Linked DNA regions of Homo sapiens. The protein of the gene in region 2 interacts with the protein of the main gene of each other region in a biochemical or structural test. Each region holds a gene or a part of one and is shown on either strand. Other genes may lie near its edges.

What was found.
Region 1: the proteins of RLF (region 2) and RIT2 form a complex in vitro, tested with the Homo sapiens proteins (one study listed by BioGRID).

What each region holds. Positions count from the first base shown.
Region 1 is NC_000018.10:43,102,932-43,115,108, forward strand, and holds part of RIT2 (GTP-binding protein Rit2), read right to left. Parts: intron 1-12,177.
Region 2 is NC_000001.11:40,183,011-40,195,187, reverse strand, and holds part of RLF (zinc finger protein Rlf), read right to left. Parts: intron 6,134-12,177; coding exon 5,979-6,133; intron 4,417-5,978; coding exon 4,335-4,416; intron 1-4,334. UniProt on the Homo sapiens protein: May be involved in transcriptional regulation.

The DNA.
Region 1 (12,177 bases), on a different chromosome or scaffold from region 2:
ACGTGAGCCACTGCGCCCGGCCCTTAACTCAGCATTTATATCTTAATTGTTTGTGACTATCTGCCATGTTTTGATGGACAAACTTCCTGTGGTCTATTTGTGTTTCTGAACATCCTAAACACTGTGTGGGCTTATTGGCCTTCAAATCCATGGTCACCAAAGATTGTTAATGCTGGCCTGAGTCTAGGTTGTTCCCAAGCCACACCCTTACCCTATACTTACATACCTGCCACTTCTCTCTTGGTACCAGTTTCTTTCTCTATTATTCATGGCTCTATTGTGAACTTTTAGAATATTGCTTAGTTTTATTTTACTACATATGCCCGGTGTCTTACTTTCTGAATTTCCTCAAAGATGAAAAAGGGTATTATGTTTATAAATATTTTTGAAGATTTACTCCCATAAGTATCACGGGAAAAGAAAGACAATATAAAATCTATTTCCTACTCCTCATGAATTTGCTATTAAAACAGGAAAATTAAACATAAAGAGATAACAAATTAAATACAAATTCAAACTTTAAATAACATCTTAAGACCACAAGCCAGATGCTCAAAGAAACTGTGTAACTGTAAATAGTTATTGGAAGGGATAATAATCAGAAAGAATTTTAAGTGTTATAAAGAAGAGAGAAGATATTAGACTGGAGTAGACAGGGAAGATATTAAAGAGCAAGAAGTATTTGTGCAGAATCTGAAAGGACAGATCAAATCGAACAAATTGAGGGAAAGGAGGAGAGAGCTTATTTTAAAATAACTTCGTGATTGGGGAACAAAAAGTAAAATAGTTTGTCTAGAAGGTAGATGACAGTGATGGAAGGACATGTCTGGGTCTATTTCAATTCTAAAATGACGGTGTTGGAATAAAGTAAGATATCTTAGTTGTTTGGGGAGGAGAAGAATCAAAATGGTATTTCAGGACGGTGGTATGAAGTGGTATGAAGAGCAGGTAAGAGTGGGATATGGGGGTTTAAAAGATGATAGAAGAAATCCCACTACTGGGTATTTATCTAAAGAAAAAGGAGTCAGTATATCAAAAGGATACCTACACCCCCAAGTTTATTGCACCACTACGCACAGTAACTGAGATATGGAATACAACGGAACGCCCATCAACAGATAAATGGATAAAGGAAATGTCATATACATACACAATGGAATGCTATTCAGACATGAAAAAAGAATGAAATCCTGTCATTTGCCACAACATGGATGAACCTGGAGGACATAACGTTAAGTAAACTAAATCAGGCATAGAAAGATAAATACCAAAAGTTCTCACTTGTAAATGAAATCTAAAAAAGTTGATATAGAAGTAGAACTGTGGTCATTAGAGGCTGGGAAGAGAGAGGGAGGGTAGGATGGGGAGAGTTTGGTTAACAGATACAAAATCACAGCTAGATGGGAGGAATGAGTTCTGGTGTTCCACAGCGCTATATAATGAATGTGGTTGGCTATAATTTATTGTGTATTTTCAAAAAGTTAGAGAGGATTTTAATGTTCACAGCACAAAGAAGTAATAAATGTTTGAGGTGATAGATATCCTAATTACCATTATTTGATCATTATACATTGTATACACCTATGAAAATAACACATAAATACATATGATTATTACTTGTCAACTAAAAATGAAAGGGAAAAAAAAAGATGCTGAGGTATTCCAGACTTCTGTTACTCAGAATTTGCCAATATAAAATCCCTAATATTTTTCCACTGATTTCAGTCCTAAGATAATTATATTGGAATAAAGTATGAAATATTTCTAAACAGTAAATAAATAAATAAATAAATATAATAGGCAGGAACCAATTAGCTGAAGTTTTTACAATTTCAAATAAAAGATGTGCCCTTTTGCTACCAAATAAAGAGCCTGATTTCTTCAATTAAACAAAAATCTGTATCCATGTAGCTTATTATTAGCTTTTCCTGCAACCATTAAATATGACTCTTTCCCTTTAAATGTTCAGTGTTGCTACTATGGAGAATGGAAGACATGTCATATTACTCAAAATTTATTAAAACAATACACAAATTGGAAAAATTAATTTCAGTCTGGATTCAAGCAGAGGCATGCTCTGTTAAAAGCCATAGCCCCTCTAATCAGGCCCTTTGTGGGCTATTGTAGCAGGCAATTGTCCTCCAGTCCTTTCTCTAACAGGCAGTGTGCTGTGTGTGTGTGTGTGTGTGTGTGTGTGTGTTTGTGTGTGTGTGTGTGTGTTTGTGTGTGGTATGGGTCAATTAGGATGAATAAAGGGATTGTTTACTAAGGTAACTAGTAAACTACTTTTATTACTGTCACTGAAATTACCACTCAGGAGACCAAAGCAGAAACTAATCAATATAAGGATCTAGAGAGCAAGAACAAGAATAGAGCAGGTGCATATACAATGGCAGTTTTACAATATTCAACCCAAATTGTATTTTCCTAGGACCTATCTGAAATATGTGTCACTACTCTTCCCTATGTTACAGAGGTAAACTGCCTTAGGTGGAGGCATGGAAGGAAGGAACAAAAAAAGGAAGGGAGGAAGGGAGGAAGAGAGGAAGGGAGGAAGGGAGGAAGAAAGGGAGGGAGGGAGGGAGGGAATGAGCAGTTTTAATGAAGGTGTAATATTGGGCAATATAATCTATAGTTTTTATTTAGTATTTTCCAATGTCATCTACCCAGCAATTCTCTGAGGATATTTTAATTAAAGCCCTTAATGAGGAAAAGGGAGACTCAAAGAGCTTAAGTGACCTGTGCAACGTCAAGTGTTGTTAAGGGTAAATAAATAAAAACAAAGCTATCCATTTACGTTATAAACTTTGTCCCACAGTTTGTGCCAGGCTATGTAATTAATATTCTGAGTATGAACCGTTACAGTAGTTATTATTGTCATCCCCATTTTACAGATGAGAAAAGACAAATATGGATTTCCTGGGTTACCCAAACCCCCAGTTCACATTATTCTGTCATCACTTCTATGGTAGGGCTTCATTCTACAGATTGAAGGTTGATCAAAATAATATATGGTAACGAGCACAGTGGACAGTGGTTAAGGGCCTCAGCTCTGGCAGTGGTTGAGTCCTGCATAGTCACCTCAGGCTCTGGGTTCCTGAGTGAATTACTCACCATCTTCAAGCTTTATTGTTCTCATCTATTAATTAGAGATATTAACCACACCCACACTTCTGGGTTTAGTGAGACTTAATAAATTAACATATTTAGTGCATTTTGAACAGGGTCAGGTATATGCAAAACTCAGAAGTGTTCACTTTTATTTTGCCATTCATTGCAGGAAGAAATTGAAAGAATAATAGTTTGGACAAAACAAGAAACATTCCTCTTTTGTGAATGCACGCAGATTTATGAACACAAACACACACTTTATTGCTCATTTTAAAGCATATTAAGAGGAAATGTGAACTGGTAAAGTGTCTAAGGACTTCTGATTCATTCAATAAGTGACTACCCAAACATTGATTTTCACATATACAAGAAATCTTCTGATAAAGAACTTCCCTCATCCACCACCACCACAACTTCTCTAACTATAATTGTTAAAAATCTTTATTCGGCGTTCCATTGTAAGACCACAAATTATCTACACTATCTCATTTCAGTTCAATTAAAGATTTTTTCCTGGGACTGCAAATATAGTTTTCTCTCTGATTTCCTTTTCAATGCAACATCTCCAGGGAGGCCCCAGTCCCCCACTCCCCCTTCGGCTTTACATCCTTCATGCATACTTTAGGAAGAATCAGGTTTCTATCTGCCCAATACACATGGCAGTGGCAGGATGCTGAAATGCTTGGAGTATTTGGGGACCAGAACTATCAATACTCTCACGCTGAAGCTGTGGTGTTAGCTGAAGTAGAATTATAGTAGGCAGAAAGGGCAGAAATGATGGTCTGGCAGAGTGACTAGCAATGGCACTTAGCTGGTCCCTGCTGAGCAATGAGAAGGACAGGTAGCACTGTTTGGTCAGGGTCACCAGAAAGCTGGTATTTATTTATGAGGAAAGCCCAAGTGATTGAGTAGATATCATTGATGGGCTTTGCAAATAGCCAGATTCATTGATAAAAGTGCACCTTCCATGTCTGTGAGCAGTACAGAGGACCACCGTCTGTCAATGTGTACAGTCGCAATCCCACCACACTGCAAACACACACACGCACAGAAATAATCGGTCATAGGCAGCAGGTTGATCTCCAGTGAGATTTTATGCTGGTTTATGGGAGGCAAAATGGCCTATTGGAAAAATTCATGCTCTAGAAAGTCAGGAGACTCTAGTCCCAACGCTACAGATGAACAGCTGAACAATGTATGGTAGGTCATTTTATCTTTCTAAGCCATAGTTCTCATTGCTTCCAAAATACCTCCCATGCATCTCTATCATTGCCTCACAAGTCTGTTTATACATCTTGTTTGTTACCCTGGTGGACAGGGCAGAGGCTGTGTCTAATTCTTGGTCATATCTGTGGGCTTTTCACAGGTCTAGGCGTGCACGCGTGCGTGCACGCATACACACACAAACACTCTTTTGTCAGTTTCTATTAATTATTCCAAAATGTATATGTTTAAAGAAAGTATGCTTCCCTAAGCAAATCAGCACCTAATTTCAAAAATCGGTATGGTTTACTCAGCACCCTGTTTACTTTCTTTGTTTGCATGATCCCAGGTTTCAATAAATTCCTATAATTACTGGGTTACTTGGTTTTCTCAAGTTGAAAGGAATTGTCACCTTCTCTCTATGTGGTTGAGGCCCCCAGGGGTCTCTGAATAGACAAGAACAAACCAGTCTTTGGCACCTCCATGCTAAATTGTTTAGTCAGAGCTCCTCATGCCACTCACTACCCCATCTAATAAGCGTAGCACTCTCCGTTGTTTGTGTAGAAAATTAAAAATATTAAAATATTTTCATATAGACGATTTTGTGTGATGTTTAAAATACATGCATGAAAATGTGGCCGGGTGCAGTGGCTCACGCCTGTAACCCCAGCCCTTTGGAAGTCCGAGGCGGGTGGATGACGAGGTCAGGAGATCGAGACCATCCTGGCTAACACGGTGATACCCCGTCTCTACTAAAAATACAAAAAAAAAAAAAAAAATTAACCGGGCATGGTGGCGGGTGACTGTAGTCCCAGTTATTCGGGGAGGCTGAGGCAGGATAATGGTGTGAACCCAGGAGGCAGAGCTTGCAGTGAGCCGAGATTGCACCAGTGCACTCCAGCCTGAGTGATAGAACGAGACTCCATCTCAAAAAAAAAAAAAATGCAGCTGAAGTTAGAACTCAGGTTCACTGTATCATGTCTTCAAAAAATAAAAACTTTCAGGTGAGAAAATAAAAATAATGTAAACATCGAACTTAGACATCCATATGTAGGCACATTAGGTTCATCATTTAATATCTATGTGCCTTGGGCCATATTACGTGTGTGTGTGTGTGTGTGTGTGTACCTCAGTTTTCTCACTTATAAAACGCAGACAGTAAAGCCTTCCTCACAAGATCAAGGCAGGGTGAGGGGTATAGTAAGGCAAGGGAATGTGACAGACCATCAGCCAGCAAAACACCAAAGCAAATGCGTGAACGTAAAGAGCTCAGCAACATGTGGGCTCATTGAGGGATTATTACATGCTCGTTCATCTCCAGTCATAGATGGGGCAGACATATCATATAGTACTCATGTAGAGCTGTAGAAACTCTCTTTCATCAATTTAAAATCTACAGAGTGCATATAATCTTGGAGATGTTGTCAATCAAAGCCTTTCGCCTGAATTCTGTTTTCAATCATTATTTGAGTGAGTAGATACCAATTTACTCTTTTACTGAGCCTTATTTAGACCTCTTGGCTAATGCTTCCTGACAGTATTGCAGTGAGTGATGGTCTGCAGTACAACTGAGGTGGTAACAATTAAGGGTGAGAACAGAAGGCCCTGGAATCTTAAAATCTTTTTGCTTTCCCCTTGTTTATTTTGTTTCTTTTGCCTTACAGTCCACAGGGTTAGGATAACGCATGGCCACGATGTGACAATTGTTGAGCTTTGTCAGACTCAAAGTTCTGCTAATGAAGTAAAATACAGAGGCTGTGGGACATGAATGATGCACTTGGTTGCTTGCCTTGATTTAATTCATCAGATAAAGGCTCAACTTCCTACCTGCTTTCCTAATTCACTGAGGTGGAAGGAATTGGTTGTGTGCTGCTTTCCGTTTACCTCAGAGATATTGTTACTGCTTTCTCTTTATAAAATCCTGCTACATGAAACTGAATTTGCAGAGGCAACAAACTGCACATGGCCGTGGGAGAGAATATGTTTGTTTATTTTAGAAATCAGTTTTTTCTTTACAAAGAATTCACAATGGAAACATTCTAATAAATTCTGAGTTCCCTAATCCTTTTTGGGTTTTCAGTTTATTTGTGTTGTGTAACTTTTTCACAGTTAACTGAAGCATCTATTGAGCAAATCTCAAAAGATATTTTTTCAACTACCACTTAGAGACACTAAATTATCAAGATGCTGCCATTAAAAATTATAAGCCTTCAGATCCCTTTGTGCCCCTGTATACACTGTTTATGTTCAATTCTTTCCCTTGGATCTCCCCATACTTTTCTTCTTCAGCATCAAAAAAATCCTCCTCATCCTTTAAGACATAATTTAAATACCATCTATGCTGTGATTTCTTCTCAACTTTCACATCTCTTATAGCCACCCCTTATACTGAGTTTCCAAAGCTCTTACATCAGAAGCCTAATATAAACTTATTGTTTTGTATTACACATTACAGCAAATTTTCCACCATGAGATGGTGCACTCCCAGAGGTCAGGAATCACCTGAAATCATAGTTGTGAATAACACTCCCTCCCTGCTCAATGACTTGCATAGTGTTTCATACATATTTCACATTTGAAGATGTATGTTGACAACATTTCACCAAATAATTCCAAGATGTGTCCTAGGGACCAGAGAAGGACATAAAGTTCTCATCTGACATTGGGAACCTTTTTCTGCTTTTCCCATACAATTTGATAGAAAAACAATTTAGATGTAGAAAGCCTGTGTTCATGTCCAGTCCTTATTTTCTGACTTTCCTACTAGACAAATCTCTTGATAGTTCTGTGCTTAGATACCTCTCCTACTTGCCTTCTTACTTTGTGATCAAATAAGATCATAATCAGAATAAGTAAAATGTTATTTTTACCCCAATTTTATGCGATAATATCTTATTTTGCAAAATATGATCATTATGAATCTTAAATTATTTAAATCTTAAAACATTATCATTATGTTAAGTGTATGCCTGTATACGAATATTTCCTTAACTCCATATATATATATACCCACTATGTACCCATAAAAATAAAAAAAATCAGTAAAATAAAAACCTACTAACTTAGAATAAATCCCAAATGCAGATATTTTCCAAAATACCTGGAAAATAAGATATTATTTTTATTAAATAAAATCTGTTGAATAAATTTGATTCTGAACTTGGAGAACCAGATGTGAAGCCAAGGAAGACAATATTTCATCATGCTCTGGCATTGAGGAACGGCCTTGCTGTTTCAAACCACAGTGACAAAGGTCAATATTTGAAACTGTTATAAGGATTGTTTAGGCTCCATAAAACTTTAAAACTGTAACCATGAGATTATTTTTATTTTTATTTTTTAGGGTGGGTGAGTGGCGGGCAGTGGAACAAAATGAGATAGAAGGCTAAAAGAAGATGCCTAAAAGATGCCTAACATACTGAACTTTATTGGATAATTTGTCTTTTTTGTTGTTTTCTTTTGGTTTTAGTTGTAATCACAGTTTGTAATATAAGTTTCTATTCTACTGTCATTTAATGTTATTTCACTGAATGTGTATGTGTGTATATATATGTGTGTTGTTTCTTAAGTAGTTTTCTCGTCATGAGTCTTATTTTTAAAATAAACTTTATTGTGTATATTTAAGGTATACAATATGATGTTGTGGGATACACATAGATAGTAAAATATTTACTATAGGAAAACAAATTAGCATATCCATCATTTCACATAGCTACTTTTTATAGGGGGTGGCAGTATCAGCAGCTAAAATCTACTAATTTATGCAGCACTAGCAACAATAGCCAAGATTTGGAAGTAACTTAAGTGTCCATCAACAGAAGAATGAATAAAATAAATGTGGTATATATACACAATGGAATACTATTCAGCTATATAAAAGAATGAGATCCAGTCATTTGCAACAGCATGCATGGAAATGGAGATCATTGTGTCAAGTGAAATAAGCCAGACACAGAAAGACAAACTTTGCATGGTCTCATTCATTTGTGGAAGTTAAAAATTAAAACAATTTAATTCATGGAGATAGTAGAATGATGGCTACCAGAGGCTGGAAAGGGTAGTAGGAAGAGGGAGTGGAGATGGTTAATGGGTACAAAATTGTGGTTAGATGGAATGAATAAGATCTAACATTTGATAGCACAACAGGGTCATTATCATCACAAATAAGTTATTGTACATTTTAAAATAACAAAAAAGTATAATGGAAGATTTATAACACAAATAAATGATGAATGTTTGAGGTGATGGATACACCATACCCTGATGTGATTATTATACACTGTATGCCTGTATCCAAATATCTCATGTACTCCATAAATATATACATGTATAAAATATATACACCTACTATGTACAAATAAACATAAAAAAATCTACTAATTTAGCATAAACCCCAAATAAAATATTATTACCTCTAGTCCTCATCCTATACATTAGATCTCTATACTTGTTCCTCCTAAATGTCTGCTACTTTGTATACATATCTGTTACTTTGTATGGTGCAGTTTTGATTCAGCTTACTCTGTGTAAAAATTGGGGAGTGATGGAAAAGCAGCTTCAATGGTGTCAGAAGGACTGGATTCTGGATCTGACTCTGCCACTGCTGTATAAATGACCTTTGCAGGTCTCTTCACCTCTCAATGCCTCAGTTTGGCCATTGTCCAAATAATTCTTGTGTATCCCTGTTTTCTCTGCAGTTAGTAACATTCTTGGACAATATTACATATAATTATAAAAATATAAATACAAATATTAATATTATATATTTATACAGAAGTATTATGCATAGTGTTCAATTAGGTTAAAGATTAAAGCGGCATAGATGTATAAATCAAAGTGATAGCCTAGATGGTTAAGATCTCTTCTAAATATAACATTCGAGACCTAGGAAATGCATTATCAATGGATCTGTTTTCTTCTTACTAGTGAGTGATGCAACTCTTTGTTCTTCTCAGAGCATTAAACATAATGTAGTAGAGTTAGATAAAACATCACAGAACTCTAAATTATTACCCCCATGACCAGGCACAAGTTATTTTTCTGACCTCTGTTTTTTCATCTGTGAAATAGAAATACCGACTCTGACTGTGGTTAGGACTGAGTATAAGCGTGAAATACATGTAGCCCATGCCTGCCATGCAATGGGGGCTTCATAAATGTTTACGTCCTTCATAGTAACTAGTATAGGACTGTGCATAATACGTGCTCAGTAAACTTTATTGATTACTTGTGGTTTAAAATTCCTCACATAAAGTACATTCATTAACTGACATATTTTAAATCTTGTGGGAATTCCTATTTCAGTAAAGTTGCAAATTCTTTTAAAAGTTTCTATTAAAAAATATTTTGGTAAAACATGGACAAAAACATTTCTCAGGCCAGGCACAATGGCTCATGCCTATAATCCCAGCACTTTGGGGGGCTGAGGCAGGAGCATTGCTTGAGGCCAGAAGTTTGAGACCAACCTGGGCAACATAGTGAGAGCCCATCTCTACAAAAAGAAAAATAAAAAAGAATAAATATTAATATACATAAAAAATCTCCAAGATTTTAAAAATTATAGTCACCATAAATTTAGTTTTTAATTCATGTTTAAGGCTGACTTGGACTTGACTCTCAGAATTGGAAACAGATGGTAGCTTGATGCATCTTCTTTAGTTTCTTCAGAAGAGCAGATCTCTTCTGGAAATCTCTTCACACAACCCAGGGTAATGGGGTTATACAATCCCTTCATATACCTCTGTTGATCTAAGTCTTTGATATGAAAAGTAGGTTTTAAAACGTATATTTTAGAGCCATGATCATGCCACTGCACCCCAGCCTAGGCTCAAATGAGATAAAATAAACCATGTATATTTTTAGCTCATTTGAAAGCAAATATTTTAACCTTCAATAGAAGGTTAATATTAAGAATCAGTGCTTGAATGTTTATATGCTGATGGAAGAACATCAGGTAAGTCACAGGGGAAAGTCCAAGGACCAGATGATTTTCTCACTGTGATTTCAAACATTTAGTCATAAGGACAGCATTTTCCAGGTGTGAAATTGTAGTATGAGAAATATTCTCTGGTGTAGTAGCCAAGGTTGCCATTTATATATAATCAATACAACTGAGCTGTTTATACTCCTTATCCTTATCTTTCTCTGAGAATGAGCTGGTCATTCCTGTCTTTTCATCTCACAGGAAAAGTTTTGTTCAAGTACTTAATTATGAATTGACTTCTATTGTACAAAGCAAAGATGAGAGCAAGCCAGGCCACTCTGTGGGCCATGTGTCACATTGAAAATCCATAGTCATTGGAACAGTAACAATGATCTGTCAGCACAAATAATACTTGGGAGAGATCAAAATAGAAGATAAAATATCACCACTATAATATCAGCAATATCACAAGAAAAGTGTGTTGCTGAAGGATGTTCCCGTCCAAAATCTCTTTTCTCCAAGTTTCATTTAGGTGGAATAAATTGAAGTAGGCTAAAAATCAGTCACTCTATCCCCACATCCCCCAAGCTCCTAAAAGCAAATACCTAACCAGCAAACAAAAGCAATACAGAGGCACATTATTGCGACAATTTCAGCATCTCCCTGACCTCACAAGCTGCTGGTGGCATTTAATGTGGATTGGTCTTTTGCCTGTTTTTTTTAAATCTGTTTTTCTCTCTTCTTCAGTATTTTATTCTCACATTGTTTATTTCTTTCTTCCTCACTGTATCTGACTGGATTCTTGTAAAGTATAACTTCATTTTATATAGATCATGTTGTCTCTATCCTTCCTCCATCCCTTCCTCCTTCCTTAAATCCTAACCTATTTTGATTCCTTCCTTCTCAAATCATTATATTTAGAGGAGAAAGCTTTTTAAAAATTCCTCATTTATACACAATTACAAAGCTTTTCTTTCATATTTTTGCCTCCCTAGAAGAGATGAATAATTTTTTTCACTTTGATATGCATTTTGCTACTGACCACATCCAGATGTACCTATTTCTTTTATTTTTTATGAGAATTCTCTTTTGTAGGGTGAGGAGAAGAGGTAGGGGTGCTGAATTTTATGTTTCTTACTATCTTTAACTTTGTTGTCCACTAAAGTCACAATCTCCTTCCTCTTCCTTTACTGTTCAGTTTTCCTATCCCTTGTGGACCCATCCACCAAAGTTGTTAGTTTTTTGGTTTCTTCTGCCGAAAATATTGTCTTCGTCTTTTAATTTTTTTGTCAACACTAAAACTACTGATTTGTTTTGATGCTTTTTGTCCATGCTAACTATAATATTTTTTCTACCTTTTAGAATTCCCAAAGATATATTCCCAGTGGAGATATTTAATATTTATATAAAAAGCTATATTTATTTATTTTCTAGTGATAGCCATAGCTCCGAGCTATCTAACATTTGATCAGCCAAAAAACTACTATGTATCTATTTTTTTAATTTTTTTATATTTGGCCTTTTAGGCTCCTCAAGAATCCCAACAACTGACACTTCCGTTCTTTATGTACCAAAAGAAATTTGCTATTCTTCATCTCTATTATCACCTCATCTTCATTTATTTGTGTAGCTTTCTCCTTTAATTGACCACAAAGTTTAGTTTGATCACCCTGCACAGGACTCACAATGAATATCATTCCATAAATCACTGCCACTTTCAAAAACCAACTTTCTTTTGGTATTCAAAGCCCACACACACCATGTCAGACTACAGATGAGGAAAAAGAACCTCCTAATGAAAGAAACAAACACAACAATCAACACCCATCATCCCGAGTATATGTCTGTGTTTGTAACTGTGTTTAATTGAATATTCATAGCACTTCTTTCTTTATGTGAAGATTTTTGAGACTAGGAGCACATTTTTCTCATACCATGAC
Region 2 (12,177 bases):
TTGAGCCATCGCGTCCAGCCTCTGTTGCTGTTTTTAGAAAAAAACTAGGATGGGGCCAGGCACAGTGGCTCATGCCTGTGATCTCAGCACTTTGGGAGGCTGAGACGGGTGGACCATCTGAGGTCAGGAGTTCAAGACCAGCGTGGCCAAAATGACAAAACTCTGTCTCTACCAAAAATACAAAAAATTAGCCGGGCGTGGTGGCACCCACCTATAGTTCCAGCTACTCGGGAGGCTGAGGCAGGAGAATCACTTGAGCCTGGGAGGCAGAGGTTGCAGTGAGCCATGATTGTGCCACTGCGCTCCAGCCTGGGTGACAGAACAAGACTCCGTCTCATAAATAAATAAATAAATAAATAAATAAATAAATAAATAAATAACTAGGATGTTTTCACTAAGTAAAAGAGTGCCTTTAAAACGTTTTCCTGAATTCCTCCCTGGTAAAATTATCACAATTCAAGTTAGGTCCTTGCATTACTGTTGGATATTTGGAGTGCCCTACTATTAGGATCACTCATGTTACTAGCAGACTCTGAAGACTTGAATGATAGCCCTGGTGGAGGCTGATTTATTTTTTTTGTTTTGTTGGTTTTTTTTTTTTGGAGATGGAGTTTTGCTCTTGTTGGTTCAAGCGATTCTCCTGCCTCAATCTCCCAAGTAGCTGGGATTACAGGCGCCTGCCACCACGCCTGGCTAATTTTTGTATTTTTAGTAGAGACGGGGTTTTGCCACGTTGGTCCTGGCTGGTCTCGAACTCCTGACCTCAGGTGATCCACCTGCCTCAGCCTCCCAAAGTGTTGAGATTAAAGGCATGAGCCACTGTGCCCATTTAATTATTTGAAAGCCATTGGTGCCGCTTTCTTTTAAAGAATTCTGCAGTATTCACACAGGCTGCCTGTTCCTCTAACAGGAATTACAGGAGTATTACTTAGTGACACAAATCATTATATAATTGTTTAAATTCGTCTAAAAAATTGCTATTTAAATGACAGGTGGCTCTATATAAAATGTCCTGAAAAGTCTATTAACTCAGCAAACAAAATGTATTTACCAATAGTTTGTTCATTAAAGTTCTTATATTCAAGGGTGAGGGAAAAGGAGTCAGAAATGTAATTCAGTATAAATGATTACGTATATGTTTCACTGTCCTCTATTACTACTGAGTATTATTGATTATGGTGAGCTTGTTCCCATGTTCTAAAATTCTAATTTGTTTCCCTTATTTTAAACTCCTGAAATTCTCTAGGAACATAAGCTTCCATTTACGTCAACATTTCTTTGGAAAATATAAGCCAAAAATGTTCACAGGCATAAGAATATAGTTTAGTATTCACTCAAGTGAAAACTACAAGATATAAAGTCTCCCCCATCCCTTAACCTTCATGTTAAAATAGGCTTTTACTACACATATACACCCACCCACACACCCACCCAATATGTTGCATTATTTTCCACTGAGAAAGGACTTAAAATATGGAATTGATACAGAAAGTAATATTTCTAATTATTAGTTCACCAATAGCAATATTTAACAAATGCTGCAATTTTGCTTTAACAGCTTGACTTGTCCTCAGGCTTCTTTCTTCTTAACTTAGAATGACTCGCGTTTACTTTGGAGTGAGGAGAAAAAGTCCATGTGAAAAGTTAAAAATTTGAGGTGTCAGGTTTATCATATTTATAATGTCTAACTGACCTGTACCATTACACTTTAGCAGAAAATACTACCACCCACCATGATATGCAGCAACTGAAATAAAAACCACAGTTTGAGTTTCTTTTTAAAAGTTCTCTACTTTCTCATTTGTTAAAGTTCAAAATACAGTTTACTCAGAATAAGAATGGTATGTAATCCTTTGTTACCAATAGACATCTAATATAGCAAAGTTATTTTTTAAAAATAATGTTAAATCTATAAAACTACAAAAACTATGGTAGCATTTCAAGAATAATTTTAAAACTTCAATTTGTTTCTTTTTAAGGTGGAAATATCCTAGCCCAGTTCTTGAAATCTACAATACAGAAATAATAGCACAAGATGCTCTTTTTTTTTTTTTTTTTTTGCTAAGACCACTCTGCCGCCCTTTTCAAGATGTTCACTCTTGCACCATTTACAGTAAATAGCAAGACATTGGTCAATTAAAGGCACAACCACAAAACAGAATTCTAGGTGATCATCAAAACAGGAGATCTACATATGCAATCTTAGATGTATGTCCATGATTATTATGTAAAAAACCAAGTTGCAGAAAATAGGCTGTCATTTTTCATTAAAAAATCATTTGCAGAGTGTATATTTTTATGTCCATAGGAAAAAAGTTACTCAGCTGTAAATAGTAATTGAGAAATATTCTACCTGCAGCCTGCTCTGATAAAAACTATTCTCTTACCAAAAGTATCCTTAATACCATTTGCTGCCTTGTCCATTTATAATATAAAATAAGAAAACTTAAGGGCTTTTTATCTTTTGGATTTCAACAGGGATCATGTCTTAACATTTATTTGTACCCCTACTACATTTATTTACTGAACACATGTTAAAAAATATATCCTACACATCTGATAAACCTGAAAAAGCTTATGCAAGTGGAAAAAGAGGCAACTATTTTATTCAAGCAAGCTAAGAAAATAATAAAGAAATATGAGAGATTTCCCTCTAAAAAGGATAGAGGTTGAGTGTCCCTAATCCAAAAATCTGAAATCCAAAATGTTCCTCAAATCCAAAACTTTGTAAGCATCAACACGATACTCAAAAGAAATGCTCACTGGAGCATTTCGGATTTTCAGATTAGGGATGCTGAACTACTAAGTGTAATGCAAATATTCCAAAATCCAAACTACTCCTAAGCATTTGAGATATGGGATACTCAAACAGTATTAATATAGTAGTAATAGTCCTAATTAGGATTTGCCCTTCTAGGATGCCATATGCCAGAACAAAACGACTGGCAGGCTTCAGAACACAGAGTGACAAAAATCAAAGTGCTACGCATGAAAGATGATTTTAGCAGCTGTACGGATATGTGAGATATTAGGACTGCATTACAGGGCTTTAAATAGGCCAAGAACATGACAAAGAATCCTCTTCTCACTAAAGAGAACATTATATCATTTCATTTTGGGTTATGTATTCCAGAGGAAAGAAATGTTCAGATAATGAAGTGTGTCTGTTAATATGCATGTCTTTATTTGTGCCTCCATGAAACAGGTCTAAGCTGTGTCCTCAAGGAAGTAGTTAGCAAAGTAAGCTCAGGGTTTGAAATCTGTGTGTAACTTTGTCCAAGCTAATTAACCTCTCTTCACCTGTCTCCCCATTTGTAAATGGAGATTCAAATAATTCTCACACTATAAGGTTTGTAATTTGATTAGAAGATATAAAACAAGTAAAATGTAGTGTAAAGCAGTGATTGGTACATAATTAGTGATCAATAAATGAATGACTGCATGCATTTATTTTTAGAGACGAGTCCTATTATTTTAGGGATGAGCCCTGTCACCCAGGCTGGAGTGCAGTGGTGTGATCATATCTCACTGCAGCCTCGGACTCTTGGGCTTAAGAGATTCTCTTGCCTCAGCCTCCTGAGTAGCTGGGACTATAGGTATGTACCACCATGCCCGGTCTATTATTTATTATGTCTTTTTTTTTTTTTTCCGAGACAGAGTCTCACTCTGTTGCTCAGGCTGGAGTGCAGTGGTGCGATCTTGGCTCACTGCAACCTCTGCCTTCTGGGTTCAAGCGATTATCCTGCCTGAGCCTCCCAAGTAACTGGGATTACAGGTGTCCGCCACCATGCCCGGCTAATATTTGTATTTTTAGTAGAGACAGGGTTTCGGCATGTTGGCCAAGCTGGTCTCGAACTCCTGACCTCAGGTGATCCACTTGCCTTGGCCTCACAAAGTGTTGGGATTACAGCCGTGAGCTACTACACCCAGCCAGGTACAATTCTTAAAGTGTTAGGAAGAAAAAGGTGAACCTTAGATGTAATGAAATAGTGTTTTGTATATTGAAGGTTACCAATAAGTATGCTATGAAGGATCCAAATACTGTTACTTTATAATCATGTATGATTTTGATAGCTTTATGCTGTCTAAACTTTATGTTTGAATAATGAAACTTTTTTGTTGATTTCTAACTATGTAGAGGCAAACAAAACCAAATTTAAAAAACCCATTTTTAATACATCCCCTTCATGTGAAGGGCCTTTTTATCATTTCATGACCTAATATCAATATATAATAAACTTGTTTTTGTTCTAAGGTTCCAATTTTAGTTTGCTGGGAGTAATTAATTAGGTGTCTTGGATACAGAAAACTTTTCTGAGTTAAAATCAACTCACCTGTAGAGACTGAAGGAATGGTAGCCAGACTTCACATGGCAGTTCACTTTCAGACACTGAAAGCAGTAATTCGAAACAACTCCTACAATAAAAATGAGTAAGTATATAAAGGTGGTTATAGTAATAATTAAGTAGAGTATGACAGCAATACTAAAAATCTATTTTACATTTGTTTAGGCTATTTTAAATGTTTTTACTCTTCAAAATTTGCTTCAGAGTTGTTATATTGACTGTTCAATTTAAAAAGGAGGAAAAAAAGAAAGACCACAAGGCTTTATATTTACATTGTTGCTTTAGTACATTTGGTAAGAATATAATAAGCTCTTTAGAAATCACATTCCAAGCAGTTTTATTTTGTTTATTTGGGTGTGAAGAGGCACCCATATAGGACAATTCTAATTCCAGTAGACAAAAATGGGAGCTCATACTACTGTCAATTCAGCTGATAAAATGATAAATGATAAATATATGTAACTGTTATCTATAGGTTTCTGTCACTTGCAGAGGAAGCAGGAAGACTGGCAAAGTCGTTTCTTTACCTGTAAAAAAAACCAAGCAAAAGAGTTTCCTTTTTCTGACTATTATCCAGAAGACACAGAAAAGAAATAACAGGAAGATTTTTTTGAAAAAAGAAATGCACTACAACTTGAATAATGAGCAACTCAAAATACCAATGAATCAACATCTCTCTAAAACCCTACAGAATAATCCTTTACCCCTTAGGGATTACAATAGGTAAAACAGAAACTAGGACTTGGTAGAAGGAAAAATATGATCATAAAACCAGGAATGCTGGTCTTCCATAAAGGGCCACTGGAAAATAGGAAGGAAAACAGGTGAGGCTAGAAAAAAAATAAAATAAACCATCTAGACTAGAAGTCATCTCACTAAACAATCTGTAAGTTGAACAAGGTGATGCCCAGCTAAAACTGATTGGCTGTTGTATCTTTTCAATTTGCAGATGAAAATTACAATAAAGGTGTAATTTTGTCTGCTACTATGCAGCTAAATATTAAAATAACAGCTAAATCACGTTCTTTTTTTTTTGTTGTTGAGACAGTCTCCACTCCACCACCCAGGCTGGAGTGCAGTGGCGCCATCTTGGCTCACTGCAACCTCCACCTCCCAGGTTCAAGCGATTCTCGTGCCTCAGCCTCTTCCCAAAGTGCTGGGATTACAGGCGTGCGCCACCATGCCCGCGCTAAATCATGATCTCTTTCTTAGGATGGTAATCTTATACTGTACCCTGATATTTTTTGCTAATAAAATTATTCTTAGTTCAAATATAATCAAATTGCAGAATTTCATGTTGTTTTTGCCAAGATGTTCTTCAAGGACTACCAGTTTCCAGGTATTCTGTCATTTAAATCAATCTATACCTAAGGGATAGAAATATATCATTCTCAGATTCCAAGCCTGAATAGGAAAAGAGACTCTAGAGGCAAGTTAAAGATGATGTTGCTTGGCTGGAGCTTCACTTGGACTATATCTCCTGGGAACGTGAGTAGGAAGGAAATTTCATTCAATGGTATGACTCTAATGGTGCTCTGAAGAATAAATGTGATGCCACTGTAAAGAGAAACCAGGCAAACAACACGACCAATGGTACTCAATTTTAAGAGTGATTTAAGTTCTCAAACTTACAGTACTAATCTGCCAAGCACTAAGAGGACATCTTCACATTCAGTAGTTAAGTATGGACGTGCACTGGCAAAGCTTTGGATGGCAAGTCGATATACCTCCAGAAGATACACAATATGTTCTGATGCATTCTTGTTGCTTGCATATTGCAATAAGGTCTACAAAATAAAATTAAAAATTATTTACAAATAAAAATAATGAAACAGATTGTCTTTGTCCTCAAACACACCACATAGCTCTCCCATTTTTTTTCTAACAGATGCATATACCTTTTATTTGCCTTTTAAGGCTCTGGTTTGTTTAGAAGCTTCTATTTTCATCACTTAATGAATGATTTCTGCTGAGTTAAAGAAATGGCAGAACTACTCTTTTGATGTCAGAATAATTCTAAGAGTAGAGCCATAAAATGTCTAGTTGTTCTCACTATAGGTCTGGAGTTGCCATCTCTATAATTCAATAATGAGTTTTCAACCATGTGCCAAGCACTGGGTACATAAGAATAAGACTATGATCCCTGCCTTCTACAACAAGAGATGAATTATTCCTGAATATGACTCTCAGTTCTACAGCACCATAAAATCCTTTTTTTTTTTTCTGGACACATGGAATTGATTAGGCTTCCAAGGGTTAATTTATGCTAACTAATTTCTAAAAGGTTAATGTTATATTGATATTTTTATTTTTCACTAGCCCTGTATCCTCAACAAAATATATATTTATTTTTTATAAAGTTTATGAAGAAAATTACCATATAGGCCAAATGCCAGTTTATTTGGTTACAATGGGGGGAATAGTCCTCTTACCACACAGGGTACCCTATTCCTCATACTGTGGCATCTGAGAAGTTATCTGGTGAGTATTGAATCTAAACCAAAAGAAAATGAAACCACAATAAAGCCTGATAAATTATATGTGTCCTATCACTAAAAATTTGTCCAAATGATGGTGGAAAGCTGGCTTATGTTCTCCCTGGACAGTGTTGAAAAATCACTGCCAAATTCATGTTTGGGGACTCTCCTTCTGAGTTCCATGGAGTTGTTTTCTCTCTTGTTCATATATATCTTCCTTCTGACAACTGATTAGGTTTTGCCTATTCTTAATTGGTATATCTAGTTAAGACGTGAAGTATGTAGTACAGTCTAACATAAGCAGGATACAGCCTTCTCCCTGGAATACACATTCTGTCTGACTGGGCTAGGGAGTTCCTAATAGGCTTTTGGTTGGGGATACTTCTATAGGCAAGTCTTATTTTCAGAGGATAGCTTTAACATGAGTGAAATACATCTTATCTGAATTCATTACCCTAGAATAATGTCTTCAAACATTCCTAACTTCCTGTCTTTGATTTTTCTGCCTAAACAACTACAAATAACTACAATAGTAGCGCAGGATTCTGCTGGATTTTCTGCAGCTTTAGTTTCCACACAAATGGTCCCTGTATGAGTTCTGGTAACTGACTGTTAGCATCATCTTGATTACTTTAACATTTAAAAAAAGAGAGAGAGAGAAACAACTTACAAGGAAATATACCATAGACCATTATACCATATACAGTAAAAGTTCCCTTAACTAATATATTGCATTATCTGATCTTTGCATACCTGAATCATTACAGTCAGTTGAGCTATTTTTAGTATACCGACCTACTCAATTAAGTATCTTGCTACTTGGTCACAGTCACTTTAGATAAATGCCCTTCTGTAATTTCAGAAAAGCAACATGTCACCACTTAATCAAATCCCTAATTTTAATAAAATAAAAAAACTGAGTAACATTATAAAACTGACCCCTAAGCAATCCTGCTTCCCAGCTGAATTAGTAGAGAAAGAATGCAGAATGGGTGTCTGTTACATAACTAAGATTTCACCTAATTTATTAAAATCAGCCAGGTGCTGTGGCTCACGCCTGTAATCCCAGCACTTTGGGAGGCCGAGGCGGACGGATCACAAAGTCAAGAGATCGAGACCATCCTGGCCAACATGGGTGAAACCCCGTCTCTAAAAATACAAATATTAGAGATGGGCGTGGTGGCGCGCGCTTGTAGTCCCAGCTGCTCAGGAGGCTGAGGCAGGAAAATCGCTTGAACCTGGGAGGCGGAGGTTGCAGTGAGCCAAGATTGCGCCACTGCACTCCAGCCTGGCGACACAGCAAGACTGTCTCAAAAAAAAAAACCAAAAAACAAAAAACAAAGAAATTTATTAAAATCTATGTTACAAAAAAATTCTGGTTTAGGTCAGTAAGTTACTTACTGTCTGCATTGGCTAATCTAAGAATTAAGGAGTTTCAAAAATTTATATTTAGTGCCAGATTTATGTTCCTTAAAGTCAGACATTATGTCTCATCAATCCTTATAGGCCTACCACTCCTCTACCCACTTCCACCCCCACAGGACATTCTCAAGTCTCACTAAATGTCTGCTGAATACATTCACCATTTTATTCATTTGACAAATATTTTTCAATAGATTATCACACATAAAGTGCTAGATGCAGTGGGGGCGGGCAGACATGTGGCCTATCCTCACAGAGCTTTCAGAATGAGTCAATACAACATGATGGCTGAAACCACACATGCAAATTAACCAACTGCTAACTAAAGTATGCAAAGAGAAGGACAGAGTGCATACAGATGGGGTTAGTCTTTCCACAATCCACCTGTCCACTTAGAACGCTCTTGCCACCAATCTAATAGCTTCTGACAGACATTCCACCAGGACTTCTGTAAGCTACACAATTTCAAAGATTCAATACTCTTGAGGAACTTCCAGTTTGCTCTATACTAATTTATACTTTTTATATTCCTAAATCTTTACCCCCTCATGTGTTGGTTCAAATTAAGTAGTGAGATCTCTTATACCCACTATAAGCATACTCTGGGTATGTGAAGAATGGCTGGAATAATCAATCTTCTTCATTATCACTTTTTTTTTAAATTGAGATAGAGTCTCATTCTATCACTGCTGGTGATCCTCCCACTTCAGCCTCCCAAGTAGCTGGGACTACAGGCATGAACCACTGTGGCTAGCCAGGCATTTTCTTTCTTTCTTTTTGTTTTTTTAATCAAGTCTCACTCTGTCACCCAGGTTGGGGTGCGGTGGTGAAATCTCGGCTCACTGCAACCTTCACCTCCCAGATTCAAGTGGATCCTTTCACCTCAGGCTCCTGAGTAGCTGGGATTACAACTGTGCGCCACCAGGCTCGGTTAATTTTCCTGTTTTTAGTAGAGATGGGGTTTCACCATTTTGGCCAGGCTGGTCTCGAACTCTTGACCTCAAGTGATCCGCCTGCCTTGGCCTCCCCAAGTGCTGGGATTACAGGCAAAAGCCACCTCGCATCCAGCCTTTGTGGTTTTTTTTTTTTTTTTTTTTTTGCTTTTTTTTTTTTTTTGAGACAGTCTCACTCTGTCAGCCCAGGCTAGAGTGCAGTGGCACGATCTTGGCTCACTGCAAGCTCCACCTCCCAGGTTCACGCCATTCTCCTGCCTCAGCCTCCCAAGTAGCTGGGACTACAGGCACCCGCCACCATGCCCGGCTAATTTTTTTTTTTTTTTTTTTTTTGTATTTTTAGTAGAGACGGGGTTTCACCGTGTTAGCCAGGATGGTCTCGAGCTCCTGACCTCGTGACCTGCCCGCCTCGGCCTCCCAAAGTGCTGGGAGCCACTGCGCCCGGCTTTTTTTTTTTTTTTTTTTTTTTTTTAATGCAAGATTAGGTTGAAAGGATTACAGCCATCCAAATAACAGGATGGCTGTAATCCTTTCAACCTAATCTTGCATTTAAAAAACTGGACTAGGCAAGGTGGCTCACGCCTGTAATCCCAGCACTTTGGGAGGCCGAGGCAGGTGTATCACTTGAGGTCAGGAGTTCAGACCAGCCTGGCCAACATGGTGAAACCCTGTCTCTACTAAAAATACAGAAAGTAGCCGGGCGTGGTGGCGCATGCCTCTAGTCCCAGCTACTTGGGAGGCTGAGGCTGGAGAATTGCTTGAACCCGGCTAGAGTTCAGTGGTTCAATCACAGCTCACTATAACCTCAAACTCCTAGGCTCAAGTGATCCTCTCTCCCACCCACCTCAGCCTCCTGAGTAGCTAGGACTGGAGAAGTGCATCACCATGCCCAGCCAATTAAAAAAAACTTTTTTTTTGTAGGGACAGGGTCTCTTTGCTGCCCAGTCTGGTCTCAAATTCCTGGGCCTCAAGTGGTCCTCCCACCTTGGCCTCTCAAAGTGCTGGGATTACAGGTGTGAGCCACTGTACCCAGCCACGGTCTCTTATTTTTCTTTAGGAACTGAAATCACAACTGAAGAGAAAAGGGGCAATAAATGATAAAGATGACCTCCTAAAGTTCATTCTACAGTGACCAAATTAATGACCTCTCTCTTTTGTTTCAGTAAACTCATTCCACAAATACCTACTATTTTGTACTGTGCTGGGAAGTAAGGATGGAGACTCTATTCCTGCCCTTGAAAGGCTATGATATATACTAAGGGGTCAGATATATAAGTAAAAAATTAGCTCACTTACGCACCATATTTGACTATTCGGTGCTCTCATTCACATCCCAAGCAGATTACCCTCAAATTACTCTCTCAAGTCCTTGCTATATACCTCAACTGCCTATTACATATTTCCATCTGGATGTCCTATTCAAATCTCAAACTCAGCATGTCCAAAACCAAACATCTTCCCCAGCAAATATGCTCTTCCTCCTATGTTCCATCTGCCTCCTTTCAGGAGCCAGAGCTAAAAAACTATCTTTGAAACCACCACACCAAAGTTTGTTGATTCTATCTCAGAAATATCTTTGTCTCCTGTCCCTATGCTTTATCTCTGTAGCCATTCACCTAAACCAGGCCCCCAATATCCCTCATCTAGACTGCTACATTGGTTCACTTCTCTAGGCTAAATAACCTCTAGTTCTGTATATGTGTTATAATCACGTATGTCTGTACATTGAAAAAATTAATGTCCAAGGGGAAAATGACTAGAAGAAATTAACTAAAATGCTTACATGGTTAGCACTGAGGTAGCAGGAATATGAGCAATTTTTGTCATCTTTATACTTTTCTAAACTTCTCAAATTTTCTTTAATAAGCATGACTACATTTTCAAAGCAAAAAAAATCTCCCCTCACCCTTAATTCTCTCTACATTTCTCACTACATGGTTTCAAGGAGCTTGGCAGCATTCTGACTATTCCTTGAAACTATCAAGAAAGGAGAATTTCTTTCAGGATGGTCACATTTAATGTTTAAAGAATACATTCCAATTTAAATTTCACATAGTTCAGGATTAACTTTCCTAATGAAATAATTATATTTACTGAGCACATAGTATGGGTTAGGCACTTCCTAAGAGCTTTACGGCCACTAAACTTATTTAATATGCACAACTCCATGAGCTAGGAGTTATTATCAGCCCATTTCAAAAATGAGGAGCCACTGTCAAGTTGTCTTTTGGGAATTTTTTTTTTTTTTAAATGAGGAAACATGAGAGATTGAATTATTTGGGCAAAGTCATCCAATAGGTGTTAGATTCAGGATTTGAACTAGAGCCATCTGGCTCCTCAGCCCACACTTAATCACCACGCTTTCTTTATGCCTTTTCACAATTCAACTATTTTAAGTGTGCTTTTAAATTCTGCCCCCTCACCCCCAGCATCAGCTTTAATATTTTGTAGCAAGTTGTGTCATGGTCATCATTTGGCCTTCTTCCCGAGTTTACAACATCTAACTTCCATTCTAAAGTGAATGCTTCTGGGGAATGTTTTCAAGCAATGGCACTGACAGATATCCTGTACTTCAGAATGCTGGTGGGTCACAAAAAACTGACAAAAGATAGCTAGTGTTTCTTTTTAAAGCTGTATGTTCTATGGCAATAGGAAGTTATGTGTTTTCTAATAGAGAGGGGTTTGGATTATTTCAAATTTTGCACATAAAGCAAGAAACTTTTATTTAAATTTCTCAGCATGTGAAATTCCCAGAATTATACATTTCAGTAAAATGTGACTGCACTACAAGAGGTAGACTTCCAGGAGAGGGCAGCACTTGAGATGGATCTCTGAAGTACGAGCAAAAGTGAGGGGAACAGGAGGACTCCAAAGAAAGAACTTGAAAAAAGTCAGAAAAGATGAATAGACAACTAGATGGCTAGAACAGATCAGAGTAAATGCTGAAGAGACTTAAATGTCAGCATGAGGAAGCACCAC